Linked DNA regions of Homo sapiens: region 1 is linked to region 2. The links come from fine-mapping of genetic effects on gene expression. A gene starts in region 2. The other region holds a variant in brackets. All regions are shown on one strand. Distances are from middle to middle. Region 1 overlaps MGRN1 (mahogunin ring finger 1). Region 2 holds the start of ANKS3 (ankyrin repeat and sterile alpha motif domain containing 3).

Evidence for each region. PIP is the estimated chance that this variant, and not a neighbour inherited with it, causes the effect.
Region 1: its variant is fine-mapped to the expression of ANKS3 in sun-exposed skin (GTEx, PIP 0.95).

The regions. Positions count from the first base shown.
Region 1 is chr16:4,637,276-4,645,600 of GRCh38, forward strand. All of the region lies in intron 1 of MGRN1 (mahogunin ring finger 1), which reads left to right. Among named protein-coding and RNA genes, the nearest start is that of MGRN1, 17 kb to the left of the region's middle. RefSeq lists an enhancer at 1-962. The variant T/C (reference allele first, on the strand shown) is at 4,346.
Region 2 is chr16:4,729,382-4,737,706 of GRCh38, forward strand. It overlaps ANKS3 (ankyrin repeat and sterile alpha motif domain containing 3), which reads right to left and starts at 4,890. Exons shown (of 18, transcript NM_133450.4): 1 at 4,557-4,890; 2 at 2,131-2,198; 3 at 599-770. The coding sequence starts at 768. DNAAF8 (dynein axonemal assembly factor 8) reads left to right here and starts at 5,156. Exons shown (of 10, transcript NM_139170.3): 1 at 5,156-5,317; 2 at 7,083-7,262. The coding sequence starts at 7,134. RefSeq lists silencers at 4,676-4,735, 4,786-5,015.

The sequences.
Region 1 (8,325 bases), 92 kb before region 2:
AAAAATTAGCTGGGCATGGTGTTGGGTGCCTGTAATCCTAGCTCCTGGGGAGGCTGAGGCAGGAGAATCGCTTGAACCTGGGAGATGGAGGTTACAGTGAGCCAAGATCGCGCCATTGCACTCCAGCCTGAGCGACAGAGTGAGACTGTCTCAAAGAAAAAAACAAAAAAAAAATTGAGTTATCTTTTTTTCTTACTGGTTTATAGGAGCTCTTTCCTAAGTGCTTTTTATTATGGTTTTAATTCTTTGGAAATTGGCCGCCTTAGTGCCGTTTATGGAAGCTAGCCCAGGCAAGAAATGGAGTGTATTGAAGGCTCCGAGGGAAGTCCCAGTAACCTCAGGGGAAACGGACAAGTGGAAGCTGCGGGAACCCAGAGCCTCTGTTCGGCTCCAGCCTCAGCGCCATCCTGCAGTCCTGCAGAGCGCCCCAGCTGCTCCGGCGTGTGTGAGGCCATCGCCACCCACCAGGCTGGTCAAGGGCCAAGTGCTGCCGTCGTCCCTGGTCCCATTCCACAGGAGGGAGAATTCGGATGGCCCAGTGTGCCAGTGTCCACCTTAGGGCCAACCAGCCCTGTCTAGGGGGTGGGGGCCACCCTGAGGGTGGTGGAGGCTGTTTCCAGAAAAGGGGAGGACACACCCCCAACAAAAAAGGTGACTACAGCTTATGCCCCCTCCGTGCCCCAGCGTCTTTGCTTAGTCAGAGTTGTTCTCAGCTTTGTGTTCCGCACTGGAAGCCAGAGCCCTGTATTTAATATGGTATCACGTTTACATATGGGAGGTCCGAAAGGGACTTCTAGCCAGTGTGTTCACACCTGCCGGAGGCTCCTTTGTGTTAATTGGCATTTTTTATCCTCAGGACGTCCTGAGTTTAGGGTGGCCCTCTCATCTCAAGTTTGCAGTTAAAGAAATCAAGGTTGGGTGTGGTGGCTCCCTGTAATCCCAGCACTTTGGGAGGCCGAGGCGGGTGGATTACGAGGTCAGGAGTTTGAGACCAGCCTGACCAACATGGTGAAACTCCGTCTCTACTAAAAATACAGAAAATTGCTGGGCGTGGTGGCGGGTGCCTGTAATCTCAGCTATTTGGAAGGCTGAGGCAGGAGAATCACCTGAACCCGGGAGGCAGAGGTTGCAGTGAGCCGTGATCGTACCACTGCACTCCAGCCTGGGTGACAGAGCGAGAGTCCGTCTCAAAAAAAAAAATAAATAAATATCTCAGCCCATGTTGACTTCCCCAGCTGGGTGGGGGACTGGTAGTAGGCAGGGAAGCATGGTAGGCCCAGGGGGATCAATGCGTGGGTGATACAGCTGGGTGGGACCCCCAGAGCACTCGAAGGCTGTGGGGCTGCCACCCCCTCTGGCCTCCCACCTGGTGGGGGCATCCTGGGACCTGATCTTGTGCAGGTCTGGCCCACCTGGGGTTTATTGGCAATGCAGCAGCTGATTTTGTGAGACTGGTAAGCAGGAACACCTGTCCTGTTAGAACACGAGGAGAATTTTCAGCAGGTGGAATCAGTGAGCTGTTCGGAGCCCCTGCAGACACCTCGTGGCCTTCCCACTCCCCCTTCCTCGGGTGGGAACGATGGCTGAGGCAGCCCAGTGAAGTCCACCCCTGGTGTCCCGGGTCCCTGGGCCGCTGTGTTTCTTAGGAGGCAGACATGCTGGGTGTCTTCATTCACATCCTGGCTTACTTCCCATGGCTGACAGTGCAGGCTCTGGAGTCTGCCCAGGGGTCCCAGTGAGAATGTCTCTCACTGGTTGTGTGACCTGAGCAGGTCACTCAGCCTCACCGGGCCAGTTTCCCTGACTGTCAAACACCAGTAACAACAGCATCTGCTTTCATTCATTAGGTGAGTGTTCATCCAGCTCTTAGGCATGGAGCGGGGAGGTCATGAGGATGCGGGGCCGTGGACAGTTGAGGATGATGCCTACTTTTGGGCTGGGGAGGACAGAGGGAACCAACAGGTACACGAGATAAAGCAGCAGTGACACTATGAGGAGAATGGCGGCGGGAGCGTTGACCACGAGCTGGCAGTTGGCCTGCGTGGTGGTCCAGGCTGGCCTCACCGCGGCATCCCAAGGAGGGAATAGCCCAGGCCGGGAAGGTGGGGCGGGGTGGGCAGGGCATGTGGAATCACTGGTCTGCAGAGCGGGGAGCTTGGCCATGGCCTTCAGGTCAGGGTGCAGCAACCTTCACCATTGGGCATCATTAGGCTGGGGGCATCTGGAAGGTCAGGAGGAAGCCTGGGCTACCTAGGATGGAACAGGCAGGACAGTTGTCTCCAAGGCCTGCCTATGACTTGGGCATCCTGTCCCCAGATGCACAGCGTCTGCCCCCTCGGTGCGGGAGGATGAGGAACGCCTGCCTGTGGATCCACACATGGTCCCCGTATTGGGGGTGTGGAGGAAAGGCCTTTCTGACATGATCTGAGCCCGGCCTCTTTCTCTTAGGGGTGTACCAGGGTTGGTGGGTTTGGAGGCAAATGCATTTCAAGGGTCCAGATCACGAACCTCTGACCCGGTGGGCCCTGAACTCTGGTCTGATAAACATGGGTCAGACTTCTCCCTGAAAACTGTGAGCGTGGAGTTCAGGCACAGGCAGGCGGGGCAGGTGCTTTCAGGCTTGATAGCAAGACCCTACTTTACTCATCTGCCCTCCACGCTCCGCGGCTCCGACGGTGTTTGCTGCGGCTCCTCTGCTGCGTTGAGTCCGTCTGTGCACTCAGATGGCCTGTGCTTCGCCTTTCGCCCGCGTTCTTGGGAGGCCTTGCCGCGTCCCGGGCCTCCCGCCCTTCCAAGGTTGGCTTGTTTCAGTGATTCGGAATGTCCCTGTTTTCCTCTCGCAGATGTCTGGTGGCGTTCATTGCACACTGTGTACCACAAGATATTGACAAGGTGCAAGAGACACAAGACGGGCCCAGAAGGCTTCTTGGCTCACTCTGTGGCCTGTATGGAAGGGACAGGGCTGTCCCCCTCCCCTGGCCATCCCCAAGACAGCCTCTGACCTGTGGCCTTGTGGTTTTGGTTTTTCTCAGCTGTAGAGATGACAAACGTATGTATCCTCCTGCCTGGAGGCATGTGTGGAGAGCATTGAGGCTGTTCGGGGAATGCCTCGAGGCCTCCCACGGAAGGGATTTTGCAGTTTTCATTTCTGTGGCTGTTGTCTCCCTGTGCAGGTTGCCCGGACACCTGCAAGCCACCCAGAGTCCGAATCCCTCGGGCAGGGAGGCAGTGAACTGCTGGGCTCCAGTCCCCCTGGGGGTGACAGTAAACCAGGGGAGAAGGATGCCTTTGTTTTAGTGGTGTTCGAGGACTGCCCTGAGGCCCTGGGTCCTTGAGTGTGTTGGTTCCACATAGCCGGGATTTCCAGGACAACCTTGGGACCCTGTGGCGTCTGTCGGGCTCTGTGAGCCCACAGGAGGATTTTCAGCCATTCTGCTGGGGAAGCCCCTTGGGTGTGGTTTTTTGTGTGTGAACAGTGCCCATTGTCACTGGCGATGACACCACTGACTCCTGTCCCCGTGGTCCCCCGGCTGCAGGAGGGGAGGTGCCCAGCACAGAGACTGAGAAACAAGTGGGCTCTGGAGTCGGGGTGTGCGCCCCAGCTCCACCGCTGATGAGCTTGGGGGCCTTAGCCAAGCTTCGTTTCCTGTATGTTTGAAAGTGTGGGCCTTGTCTGCCCCTCTTTCCTTGGGGCCAGCGGGAAAGGGGGTGAAGGCGCTGACCTCAGCAGGTGTGGAGGGAGAGCCTGGTGGGTGTGGTTCCACCTGCGTTCTTTCACCTCCACAGCTGCCTTCCCACTTCCCACTCACAGTCTCCTTTTCTTTTTCCTCCACCCCCTTGGCAGCGCTGCCTGCTCCTCTTGGTCCTGAGCTGGTGCACATACAAATGTACACAGCTCATGCACGCACACACCACATGTGTGTCATTCTTCTTGAGGCAAAGGAAAGGGCGGCCCCGCCCCTAACACTTCCCCAGGCCTGGTCCCTTCCTCCTGCCCCATCAGGGACCTAGGGTCTCCTTCCCGTGTTTCTTCTCCATGTGTGGATACCCATGTGTGAGCAATAGGATTTTTTTTTTGTTTTTTGGAGACAGAGTCACGCTGTTGCTTGGGCTGGAGTGCAGTGGCCCAGGGGCCCAATCATAGCTCACTGCAACCTCAAATTGCTGGGCTCGCATGGTCCTTCTGCCTCAGCCTCTTGAGTGGCTGGTACTACAGGCACATACCACTGTGCCTGGCTACTTTTTTTTTTTTTTTTTTTAAGACAGCGTTTTGCTCTTGTTGCCCCAGGCTGGAGTGCAGTGGTGCAGTCTCGGCTGACCGCAACCTCTGCCTCCCAGGTTCAAG[T/C]GATTCTCCTGCCTTAGCCTCCTGAGTAGATGGGATTACAGGCACCCACCACCATGCCCAGCTAATTTTGCATTTTTAGTAGAGACGGGAGTTTCTCCATGTTGGTCAGGCTGGTCTCGAACTCCCAACCTCAGGTGATTCGCCTGCCTCGGCCTCCCAAAGTGCTGGGATTACAGATGTGAGCCACTGCGCCTGGCCACTTTTTGTATTTTTTGTAGAGACAGGGTCTCGCCATGTCGCCCAGGCTGGTCTGAAATTCGTGGCTTCAAGCCATCTTGCCCACCTTGGCCTCCTAAAGTGCTGGGATTATAGGCGTGAGCCCCCTCGGCTGGCCTGGATTCTCTGTGAGGTGTTTCCAGTTCTTCCCAGTTGGTCTCGTCTCCTGCAGGTGTGAGTTGTTGATTGTCTGCGCCGTGTTGATCACGTAGACCCTGTTCTTGAGTGCTGAGGGTCCATCCGGTAACCCTGCACTGTCATGCATTTCCCTGTCAGCATATGACTTGGTTCCTTTTTTTTTTTTTTTTTTAAAAAAGACCGTCTTGCTCTTTCGCCCAGGCTGGAGTGCAGTGGCGCGATTTCAGCTCGCTGCAACCTCTGCCTCTTGGGTTCGAGAGATTCTCCTGTCTCAGCCTCCCGAGTAGTGGGGATTACAGGCATGAGCTAATTTTTGTATTTTTATTTATTTATTTATTTTTGAAACGGAGTCGTCTTCTGTCACCCAGGCTGGAGTTCAATGGTGTGATCTCCGCTCACGGTAACCTTCGTCTCCTGAGTTCAAGCGATTCTCCTGCCTCAGCCTTCTGAGTAGCTGGGATTACAGGCATGCACCACCACGGCCAGCTAATTTGTGTGTGTGTGTGTGTGTGTGTGTGTGTGTGTGTTTTTAGTAGAGATGGGGGTTTCACCTTGTTGCCAGACTGGTCTTAAACTCCTGACCTTGTGATCCGCCCGCCTCGGCCTCCCAAAGTGCTGGGATTACAGGCGTGAGCCACCGCACCCGGCCCTAATTTTTGTATTTTTAGTAGAAACAGACTTTCCCATGTTGGCCAGGCTGGTCTTCAACTCCTGACGGCAGACCTCAAGTGATTTGCCTGCCCTGGCCTCCCAAAGTGCTGGGATTACAGGGGTGAGCACCGTGCCTGGTGGGTTATAATTTTTAACGCTTGAATTTTTTTTTTTTTTTTGTTAAAGGGTCTGGCTCTGTTGCCTAGGCTATAATGCAGTGGCTTGATCAGGGTTCACTGCAGCCTTGACCTCCCAGGCTCAAGTGATCCTTCCACCTCAGCCTCCCGAGTACCTTGGACTGCAAGTACGCATCACCGTGCTAGCTAATTTTTTTTGTTTTGTTTTGTTTTGAGACAGTCCCACTCTGTCACCCAGGCTAGAGTGAAGTGGCACAATCTCAGCTCACTGCAGCCTCTGCCTCCCAAGTTCAAGCGATTCTCGTGCCTCAGCCTCCTAAGTAGCTGGGACTATAGGCACACACCACCATGCCTGGCTAATTTTTGTATTTTTAGTAGAGATGGGATTTCGCCATGTTGGCCAGGCTGGTCTCAATCTCGATCTCCTGACCTTGTGATCCACTCCTCTCGGCCTCCCAGAGCACTGGGATTATAGGCACGAGCCACTGAGCCTGGACTAATTTTTGTATTTTTGGCAGAGATGGGGTTTTGCCATGTTGTCCAGGCAGGTCTCGAACTGCTGGGCTCAAGTGAACCTCCCACCTTGGCCTCCCAAAGTGGTAGGATTACAGGCGTGAGCTACTGTACCCGGCCTTGCTTGATTTTTTTTTTTTTTTTTTTTTCTGAGACAGAGTCTCCCTCACTGCAACCTCCGCTTCCTGGGTTCAAGGAATTCTCCTGCCTCAGCCCCTCCCAAGTACCTGGGACTACAGGCGCGTGCCACCACACCTGGCTAATTTTTTGTATTTTTTAGTAGAGACGGGGTTTCACCGTGTTAGCCAGGATGGTCTCCATCTCCTGACCTCGTGATCCACCTGCCTTGGCCTCCCAAAGTGCTGGGATTACACGCGTGAGTCACCGCGCCTGGCAAAAATCTTGTATTGATCATATTGTGTGTCTGCAACCAAAATATGCGCACCAATTGAAATTAGAATTTTAAATAATTTTACATCATAAGCTGTGAGTTTTTCGTGTTTTGAATGGCCATTACTAATACCCAATTGATCAAACAAATATTCCAGTTTTTATCAATAACAAGAAGAAATACGAAAAAACATTGGAAATATGTCTCTTGAGTAGATGGGTTCCTTTTTCTCCTGGTTAATTCATGCATTCACAGTTGGATACAAGCTGTTGCTAAAATGATTTCAGCCTCAATGCTAGTTTTTTTTGTTTGTTTGTTTTTTTTGAGATGGAGTCTCGCTCTGTTGCCCAGGCTGGAGTGGAGTGAGGTGGTGCAATCTCGGCTCCCTGCAACCTCTGCCTCCCAGATGCAAGCAATTCTGCTGTCTTGGCCTCCTGAGTAGTTGGGATTACAGGCATGTACTACCACTCCCGGCTAATTTTTTTTTGTTTTGTTTTGTATTTTTAGTAGAGATGGGGTTTTACCATGTTGGCCAGGCTGGTCTAGAACTCCTTACCTCAAGTGATCCACCCCCCTCAGCCTCCCAAAGTGCTGGGTTTACAGGTGTTAGCCACCGTGCTTGGACCCCTCAATTACCAGTTTTTTTTTTTTTTTTTTTTTGATGGAGTTTCACTCTTGTTGTCCAGGCTGGAGTGGACAGCTGGCCCAATCTCAGCTCACGGCAACCTCTGCCTCCCAGGTTCAAGCGATTTTCCTGCCTCAGCCTCCCAAGTAGCTGGGATTACAGGCACACACCACCACGCCTGGGTAATTTTGTATTTTTAGTAGAGACAGGGTTTCTCCATTATGGTCAGGCTGGTCTCCAACTCCTGACCTCAGGTGATCCACCCACCTTGGCCTCCCAAAGTGCTGGAATTACAGGTGTGAGCCACTGCACCTGGGTTCTGTTTTTTAAGTTGAGAAACCTTGATAACATCAATTAGATAGGAATTAGCAAGATTTTTATGTAACAATAGCATCTATTTCCAAGTTACTTCACAAAAATTGACATAAAAACCTAGTACAAAAATTAATGATTCATCACCTCACAACTTACGTCCTTCCAGTTAAGTTTTTTTGAGGTAAAATTCACTTACCATGGGGACACCTTTTTAAAGTGTACAAGTCAGTGATTTTTGGTATATTCAGTCATGCAACCATTACCTTGATCTAATTCTAGAACATGGTCCCAGTTTTGTGATATTACAACCATTGCTTTAACAAACACTCTTCTTCCTTGTCTCTAATCTTTTAAAAATAATTTTTCTTGTTTTACAAATGATATATGTTAATTGTAGAAAACTTAATTTTAAAAAGATAAAGGAAAAAATTAATAATCACTTATTACCTATGCAGGTGTTTTAGTTTGTAGCATTTGTTTCTCTGAAGTTATTTATATGTATATATGCGTGTGCATATATATATAGAGTGAGAGTTGGCGGGGGTGGGGGTGGTGGTGGGGGGACGGGAAGAGAGACAGGGTCTTGCTCTGTTGCCCAGGCTGGAGTGCAGTGTGGTGTGATCATGGCTTACTGCAGCCTCGAACTCTTGGACTCAAGCGATCTTCCTGCCTCAGTGAGTGTCCTGAGTAGCTAGGACTACAGGCATGCGCTGCCATGCCCAGCTAATTTTTAAGAATTTTTTGTAGAGACAGCGTCTCCCTATGTTGCCCAGGCTGGTCTTGAACTCTGGGGCTCGAGCGATCCTCCTGCCTTGATCTTCCAAAGCGCCCAGGCATGAACCACTGGCCCAGCTTAATTACTTTCTCTGAAGTTATTGAAGCTTAAAACTACATACAGTAAGATCTTAGAGCCTCCAGCCTAGAACACCAGGCTGAAAAGTGCTGTGGAGAAGAATAAGGCTGGAAAGGGGAGTGGAAAGATTGGTTGGCAAGC
Region 2 (8,325 bases):
ACAGAGTCTCACTCTGTTGCCCAGGCTAGAGTGCAGTGGCGCAATCTCAGCTCACTGTAACCTCCACCTCCCGGGTTCAAGCGATTCTCCTGCCTCAGCCTCCTGAGTAGCTGGGATTACAGGTACATGCCACCACACCCAGCTAACTTTTATATTTTTAGTAGAGATGGGGTTTCATCATGTTATCCAGAATGGTCTCAAACTCCTGACCTCAAGTGACCCGCCCATCTCAGCCTCCCAAAGTGCTGGAATTACAAGTGTGAGCCACCGCACCAGGCCATCACTTTCTGTCTTTATTTTTATTTTGCTTGTTTGTTTGGGCATTTCTGCAATTAGTGAATAAAATTAGTCTGGTTAAAGAATGACTGTTTATAAGCTTCTGATCAAAGTTTACTCCCTCTTTTTCTTCCTAGGAATAAAAACGGCCTCTTTGTCAGGGCTCAGCATCAATACTTACTGACAGCTGCCTGAGATAAGCAGGTTAACCTATTCTACACGCATTAAACATCCACAACTGTGTGCAAAGCCCCATCACGTGGGATCGAAGCCATCACTGCGCTGCTCAAAATGTGAGAGGAAGTTCCCCGAGATCTCTTACCGCTGCACACACTCCTTCACCACTTCATACTGGCCAATGGAAGCAGCTGTGTGAAGATCCAGGGGGACATCCAGCTCCTCCCCGCTGACCTGTGTCCCGAGCCCGTGCCACATGGACAAGCTGCGGTTCAGGAGTTCCGGCTCGCTGGCTTCATCGCTGAGCTCGGACATCACTGAGGAGGAAGGCCCAAGGGTTAGATCTTTCCTGGCTGGTTGTTCCAGGGCATGAAACAGGCTGGTCCTGCCCCTGCTACACCACTGCACTAGCAGACTGATAACCCAGTGCAGTCAACCCCGGGAGTAACTCAGACAAATTTATTTGCTGAAATAATGTATGCTTTGGGCAGTCCCAACCATGCTAAATCTGGTGAGCCTGCTATCACACCAGTAAAGAGGAGCACATATGGTGAGGCATTAACTGTGGAGTACCTGCTCCTCCTTCCAACCGCAGGCACCAGGTAAAAGAGAATTCTCCACCAACTCTAGGAACCTGACAACCTCTTGGATGGGCAGTGAAGAAATGCTAATTGGGTTGTTTAACCCAATCAGTTCCTTGATGTGGTGGGGAAGAACCCTGGATTTGGGGTTTGATCAAAATTCAGCTTGGACCCGGTGCGGTGGCTCACACCTGTAATCCCAGCACTTTGGGAGGCCAAGGTGGGCAGATCACTTGAGGTCAAGAGTTCAAGACCAGCCTGGCCAACATGGTGAAATCCTGTCTCTACTAAAAATACAAAAATTAGCTGGGCATGAAGGCCAGCTACTCGGGAGGCTGAGGTAGGAGCATCACTTGAACTGAGGAGGCGGAGGTTGCGGTGAGCCAAGATCACGCCATTGCACTCCAGCCTGGGAAACAGAGCAAGACTTTGTCTCCAAAAACAAAACAAAAAAAAAAAACAACAAAAAAGCAGCTCTGCTACTTAGCAACTCCAATCCCTAGTGCCTCACTGTCTAACGGGGACATATCTAAAAAGGCTGCTATTATGATACATAAAAGAATGGATAAACAAACGGTGGCACATCCATATAATGGATGCTACTCAGCATTAAACACAAGGATCCAACAGTTGACATGCAACACGTGAATGAATTTCAAATGATTTACGCTAAATGGAAGAAGCCTGCCTACAGTATAATTTCACTTACATGACATTCTGGAAAAGGCAAAATTAAAGGGTTGGAGGTTGGGGCAGAGAGGGAATTTGGGGGACGATAGACCTGTATGACTGTGACGGTGGATCTGTGACTCCATGCCTTTATGAAACCACAGAACTGAACACCAAAATGAATTTTACTGTATGTAAATTTTATTTATTTTTTTGAGACAGTCTCGCTCTGTTGCCCAGGCTGGAGTGCAGTGGCATGATTTCAGCTCACTGGAACCTCTGCCTCCTGGGTTTAAGGGCTTCTTGAGCCTCAGCCACCTGAATAGCTGAGATTACAGGTGTGCGCCATCATGTTAGGCTAATTTTTGTATTTTTAGTAGAGACGGGGGTTTCACCATGTTGGCCAGGCTGGTCTCGAACTCCTCACCTCAGGTGATCCGCCCGCCTCAGCCTCTCAAAGTCCTGGAAATATAGGCGTGAGCCACTGCACCTGGCCTGTAAATTTTAAATATAAATTAATTTTTCTGGAATGGTTATGAAATTGAAAATTTCAAAAAAGTAAAAATAAATTTTTCTGAAAAAAATAGAAAGCAATTCCCCAACAGACAAACCAGGATGTGACTGGTGGCACGCAGCAACCGTCAACTGAATAGGAATCCACTTAGGCATCCTTTGAAGAGAGAGCTATGGGGGGAAATATAACAGGCCGGTGAACTGGTGAGGTAACACTTTCCCCGAGATGGGCCTACATGGGTAACGGCACACCAGGAATCCCCAAATCAAGGCAAGGTCATCAGCTTCCTAGTAGAATCCTTAGGTACAAGAGTGCCAGGAAACAAGGGTAGGAAAGGGAGCAAAGGCGAAAACAAAGGCCTTGTCAGGTTGTGATGACCTACAGGTGCTATGGTAGTTAATAGATGCGATGAGGACCTCAGTTTCTATTAAAGAATGCTTCCAAGCCCCAGGTGACAGCCAAGATGGCTAAAGAAACAAGCCACCAATGTGGGAGACGAACACTTCACAGACCCTTGGTGAAGAGTGTGTGTAGGTGCGGTGGGGCAAGCAAAGCCCTCCTTCCTGGAGCCACCACCTCTTCAGCTAGCAGAGCCCAAGATCGTGCAGTGCCCTTCCCTCACTTTGCAGGTGAGAATCCCACCCTAACAGCCCTGGCCAACGAAGCCTGGATAAGAAACCAAACGAGCTGAGGGTCAGTTCAGAGTCCCTTCCATACCTCCCTCAAGCCTTCACTGGGCATGTCTCTTCCACGCCAAAGGCCTCCTGCAGGGTGAGGCCGTGTTCTCTATTTACTGGAGACTTGCATATCTGACATCCCCAGAGGTCTGAAGGACAATGAGAACCAGACCAAGCGTGACGGACCACTTGAGGCCAGGAGTTCGAGACCACCCTGGCCAAAATGGTGAACTCCCATCTTTACTAAAATTACAAAAATTAGCTGGGTGTGGTGGTGGGCGCCTGTAGTCTCAGTACTCAGGAGGCTGAGGCAAGAGAATCGCTTGAGCCTGGGAGGCGATTGCAGTGAGCCGAGCTCAAGCCACTGCACTCCAGCCTGGGCAACAGAGCGAAATTCTGTCTCAAAAAAAAAAACAAAAAAAAAACACTAAAGTGAAAACTAAAATGTCCCATCCCGAGTGGTGTGGTGTAAAGTAGCATTAGAGATAAGACGTTTTAGTTTTCATTCAACTTTTTGGTTCTGTCCATTCTGAAAATGCTAAGTATCTGTTACCTTTACAGTGAATCCTAAAGAAAATGTGGTACTTAGACACAATGGAGTACTATTCAGCCATAAAAAAAGAATGAGATCCTATCATTTGCAAAAACATGGATGGAAGCGGAGATCGTTATGTTTAGTGAAATAAGCCAGGCACAGAAAGATAAATATTGCATGTTCTCAATTATTTGTGGTTATCTAAAAATCAAAACAACTGAACTCATGGACATAGAAAGTAGAAGGATGGTTACTTCTAGTGTAACCAAGGCTGGGAAGGGTAGTGGAGGGTGGGGATGCTTAATGGATACAAAAAAAACAGAATGAATAAGATCTAGTATTTGATCAAGCCACTGCACTCCAGCCTGGGCGACAAAGCGAGACTCCGTCTCAAAAAAAAAAAAAAAAAAAAAAAGATCTAGTATTTGACCGCACAACAGGGTGACTATAGTCAATATAATCTAATTGCACATTTTATTTATTTATTATTATTTTTTTTGAGACATAATCTCACTCTGTTACCCAGGCTAGAGTGCAGCGGCGTGATCTCGGCTCAATGCAACCTCCGCCTCCTGGGTTCAAGCGATTCTCCTGCCTCAGCTTCCCGAGTAGCTGAGATTACAGGTATGAGCCACCATGCCAGCCTAGTTTTCGTATGTTTAGTAGAGACGAAGTGTCCCCATGTTGGCCAGGCTGGTCTCAAATCCTTGACTTCAGGTGATCCGCCCGCCTTTGCCTCCCAAAGTGCTAGGATTACAGGCGTGAGTGAGCCACCGCGCCCGGCTGCACATTTAAAAATAATTCAAAGAGTATAATCATATTGTTTGTAACACAAAGGATAAATGCTTGAAGGGATGGAGACCCCCATTTTACATGTGATTATTACGAACTGCATGCCTGTATCAAAATCTCTCATATACGCCATAAATATATACACCTACTACGTACCCACAAAAATTAAAAAATTTTTAAAAATCTTAACAAATGTGATGCTGGTGGTAACTGTCACGCCCACAGAGGAGGTCTGTGAAAGCACCCAGGCACCCCCTCTCGCCCCGTGGAACCGCATCGCAAAGGTAGCTCACTGGCCCCGGGGCGGGTCCCTGGCCGACAAACCCGTAACTCACAGCAGTGACGCTTCCCGACGCCCCCCGGCCACATCCCCACAGGAACGCTACGGCGCACAGGGCATTACTGTGCCCCCACCACAACCACATAAAGAAAATGTGGGGGCTCGGTCCTCCAGTCACGCGGCGAGCAAGTGCAGCGCGGGACGCCCGAGCGCCGGGTCTAGGCGGGCTGCAGGTGCCGGCAAGTGCTGGGGCCGGGCCGCCGCGGAACCCACCTGTGCTGGGCCTCAGGCCTTGCGCCGCCCTCGGGCTGCCGTCGCCAACCCCCCCCAAACAGCTCGCCGCCACGCTCCCTCGCCGGGGCACCGCCCCCGGCACCCGCCCCGGAAGTAGTTGCGGGAGGGCGCGGAGCACGCCGGGAAGCTCGCGGGTCGGCACCGGGACAGCTCCCGGGCGCCGTGGAATGCACACGTCCCGCACCCGGACCTTCCGGTCAGCTTCCCGGCTCGCTGTCTGATGCCCGCGGTAGCCAATGAGCTAGTGGTGTTTGTCCTGCTCCGTCCCCGCCCTCCAGGGGAACCAATCCCATTGCAGGAGAGGCAGGACGCGCAAAGGCCCGAAAGAGGAGCTGGGCGGGGTGGGGGGAAGGCGGAGGCAGTCTAGTAATGTAAAGCTCCGCTGAGAGGGAGAGTGCTGAAGAAGGGGACAGCCTCTGTACCTGCGGCGCGGCCCGAGGGGCGGACGCGAGCGGAGTGACGCGCTGGAGGCTGTTTATAGCGCTGTCAGGACAGCGCGGGGAGTGGAGGCAGAGGCCTGAGGTGAGGGGCCTCGGGCCTGCTGCGCCTGCAGGGAGTTGAACAAAACGCGGGGAAATACGGGCTGGGGGTGGGTGAGAGGAGGAGCGATGGGCTTTCCACTTCCACAGCTTTAAAATTTAAAAGCTCGACCCGGGAGGCTGTTGGCGTCTGGTTGCCATAACAACCGGCAGCCTCGTGGCAGGCCGGCTGGGGGCGGGGCTCTGAGAACCGGGGCGGGGCTGTGGCGGGGCTAACAGGCTGCAGCTGAGAAACCCACCCCGAGACGGAGCCGGAAGGCCGTTATTCAGAGGCGGCTCCGAGCCTCCCCTTCGCCTTCTGGATGCTCTGAGCTCCTCAACTTGGCGTTCAGGGCCCTGCATTGTCTGGTCCGTTTTCACCGGAGAGTCCAGCAACTGACACTTTCTTCCCTTAAACCTGTTGGGCGGTTCATTCCTTTGAGCTACTGTACATGCTCTTCCTTCTGCCGGTAATGCCGTTCCCTCCCCTATTGTCTTGTCCGCCTGAAGGGTTTATCAGAGTCTCTGGAGGCCCTCTTCATCCCGACGATTCTGTTGCCCTAAGAAATACTGTGCCCTGAATTGCGGAACAGAGCTCTAGTTACAAAAAACACCCGCTGGCTGTGTGCACCAGATGCGTCCCCAACCCGCTGCTCCCAGTTCAGAGTGCACCAAGCACCTGCCCTATTCCCAGAAGTACAGAGGAAGCAAGCAGCCCCCAATTCACATCTCCTGCCGCTGCCCTGATTGGGGATGAACGGGCACTGACTGCAGGGCCAAAGCCACAGCGGCCTCTCGAGCTGCAGAGTTCTCCTGACACTGGCTCTAGAGGACCCTCACCCCCCAGCTCTCAAGCTCAAGCTCCCCAGCCCCCTGAATAACAGGACCATCTCCTTTAAGACTCTAAGATATAAATGCAGGGGCTGGTCAGAGTAGTGACTCCAAAAAAAAAAAAAAATCACTTAGTGACTCCAAACTGTCAGCCAGGCGCGATGGCACATGCCTGTAATCCCAGCACTTTGGGAGGCTGAGGCAAGAGGATCACTTGAGGCCAGGAGTTTGAGACCAGCCTGGGCAACAGGGAGACTCCATCTCTACAAAAAATAAAAATGTTAGCCAGATGTGGTGGTACACACCTGTAGTCCCAGTTATTCAGGAGGCTGAGGTGGGAGGATCACTTGAGCTCAGGAGGCCGAGGCTTCAGTGAGCTATCATTGTACCACTGCACTCTAGCCTGGGCGACAAAGCCAGACCCTGTCTCCAAAACAAAAAAGCAAGGTGTCTTCTGTTCCTTGGTAAAGGGCAGTAAAGGGTAGTAGGACTTGAAATTCCCCCTGATTCAGAGTCCACTGTTGCTATTTACTAAACACCCTGAGCCTATGAAATGAAGAGAATAGTTATGCTATATGGGGTATATATAAAATATACCTATATATCATTATATATCGTACATATGGCATTCTATATAACATGTACATATATCTACATAGGTATATTTATATCAATACATATATTTGTATATTATTATGTATATATCACTATATACATTATATACCTGCAGGCTCCACATGTGTGCATGAGTGGGAACACACACACACACGTACACACACAGTGCCTGGCACTAACAGGAGCTTGCATAACTAGAAGGAAACTGAGGCAGGTGGTGAGGCCTGCCAGCCTGTTTGGTCTCCTACAGCTGGTAGAGCAGCCCCTGCTCTCCTGACCTTCAGTGGCCCGGACCCTCTTCCATCACCCTGTGTACCCCACAGAGCTCCCCGGATTATGGTGCACTGAGAAGGCATCTGGAAGCCTGGGCCCTCATGGCATCCAACGATAAAGGCATGGCACCCTCGCTGGGCTCTCCCTGGGCCTCCCAGATGGGGCCCTGGGATGCCATCCTCAAGGCTGTCAAAGACCAGCTCCCGTCTCTGGACTCAGACTCCCCTTTGGTAAGCAAGAACTCTCTCCCTGGATGCCTTGTCCTTCCTACCAGAGCAGGCATGACGCTGGCCAGGACAGCTTTGGAGCACTTCTCTGAAGACTTTTCCTGCTGACCTGTGCAGTTTGTTGTCATTTTACTTTAAATCGCATGGCCAGACTCAAAGTTGTGTTTTCTGGGTGCCTATTTCCTTCTTTACTCTTTCTTCTGCCTTGATTGTCATCTCTGAGCATGGGTATTGGTGCTCAGCATCTTGGGAGACCCTTTCAGTGGAGTTTTTGGTGCTGACTTGGAACCCAGGTCAATTTGATGCAGAAGCTCTGTCCTTTCCATTCTGCTATTCTCCACTCTCTCGTGCCAGGACAGGGCCAGAACACCCACTGAGAATGCACAATTCCAGTGCATTGTGATAAGCCTTCGAGGGATTCTGCATTTGTGGTTTGGGGTCCCTGAAATGGCTCTCAAAGACGCTCAGACCAATAGCCCTAGGTGCAGGCATAAGACCCTGCTAAAGATGCTCCTGGCGGGGGCTGCTCAGTGCACAGGTTGGCACTGGGCGTTAAGAGACAGTATGAGGGTTTTAAAAGGAACGGGCAGGGTTTGGGTCCTACCTGGGCACCAGCAACAGAGCTTCAGGGACCTCAGACGTCATCCAGTGCATGACGAGGCTAAGGAGAACCTAAGGGGACCCCACGCCTCAGTGCTCAGGGTGTTTTCACACCTTCAGTCTCATTTGAGAGTATGAGCCCCAACCCCTTCAAGAAGACAAACTAAGCTGTGTAAGTGATGGCTCAGGGTCACAGGGGATGGGGAGGGCTGGACCCTGCTCTTTCAGCTACCACCTCACTGCCCTGTTCATGTCACGAGGCATTAATGAAGCACCTGCTGTATGCGAGGTACTTGCAGAACCAGGAGCCCCAGTCTCACCTCCACGAGGTTGTGCTGCCAAGCCCATTTCTAAACGGTGGCAAGAAGCCGCGCACAGCAAGGCTGACTGGGAGAGAACCGGATCTCCCCCAGGCTCCTGAGCAGCAGGGCTGGACGGGCTGGATGGGCTGGGCGGGCTGGGCTGG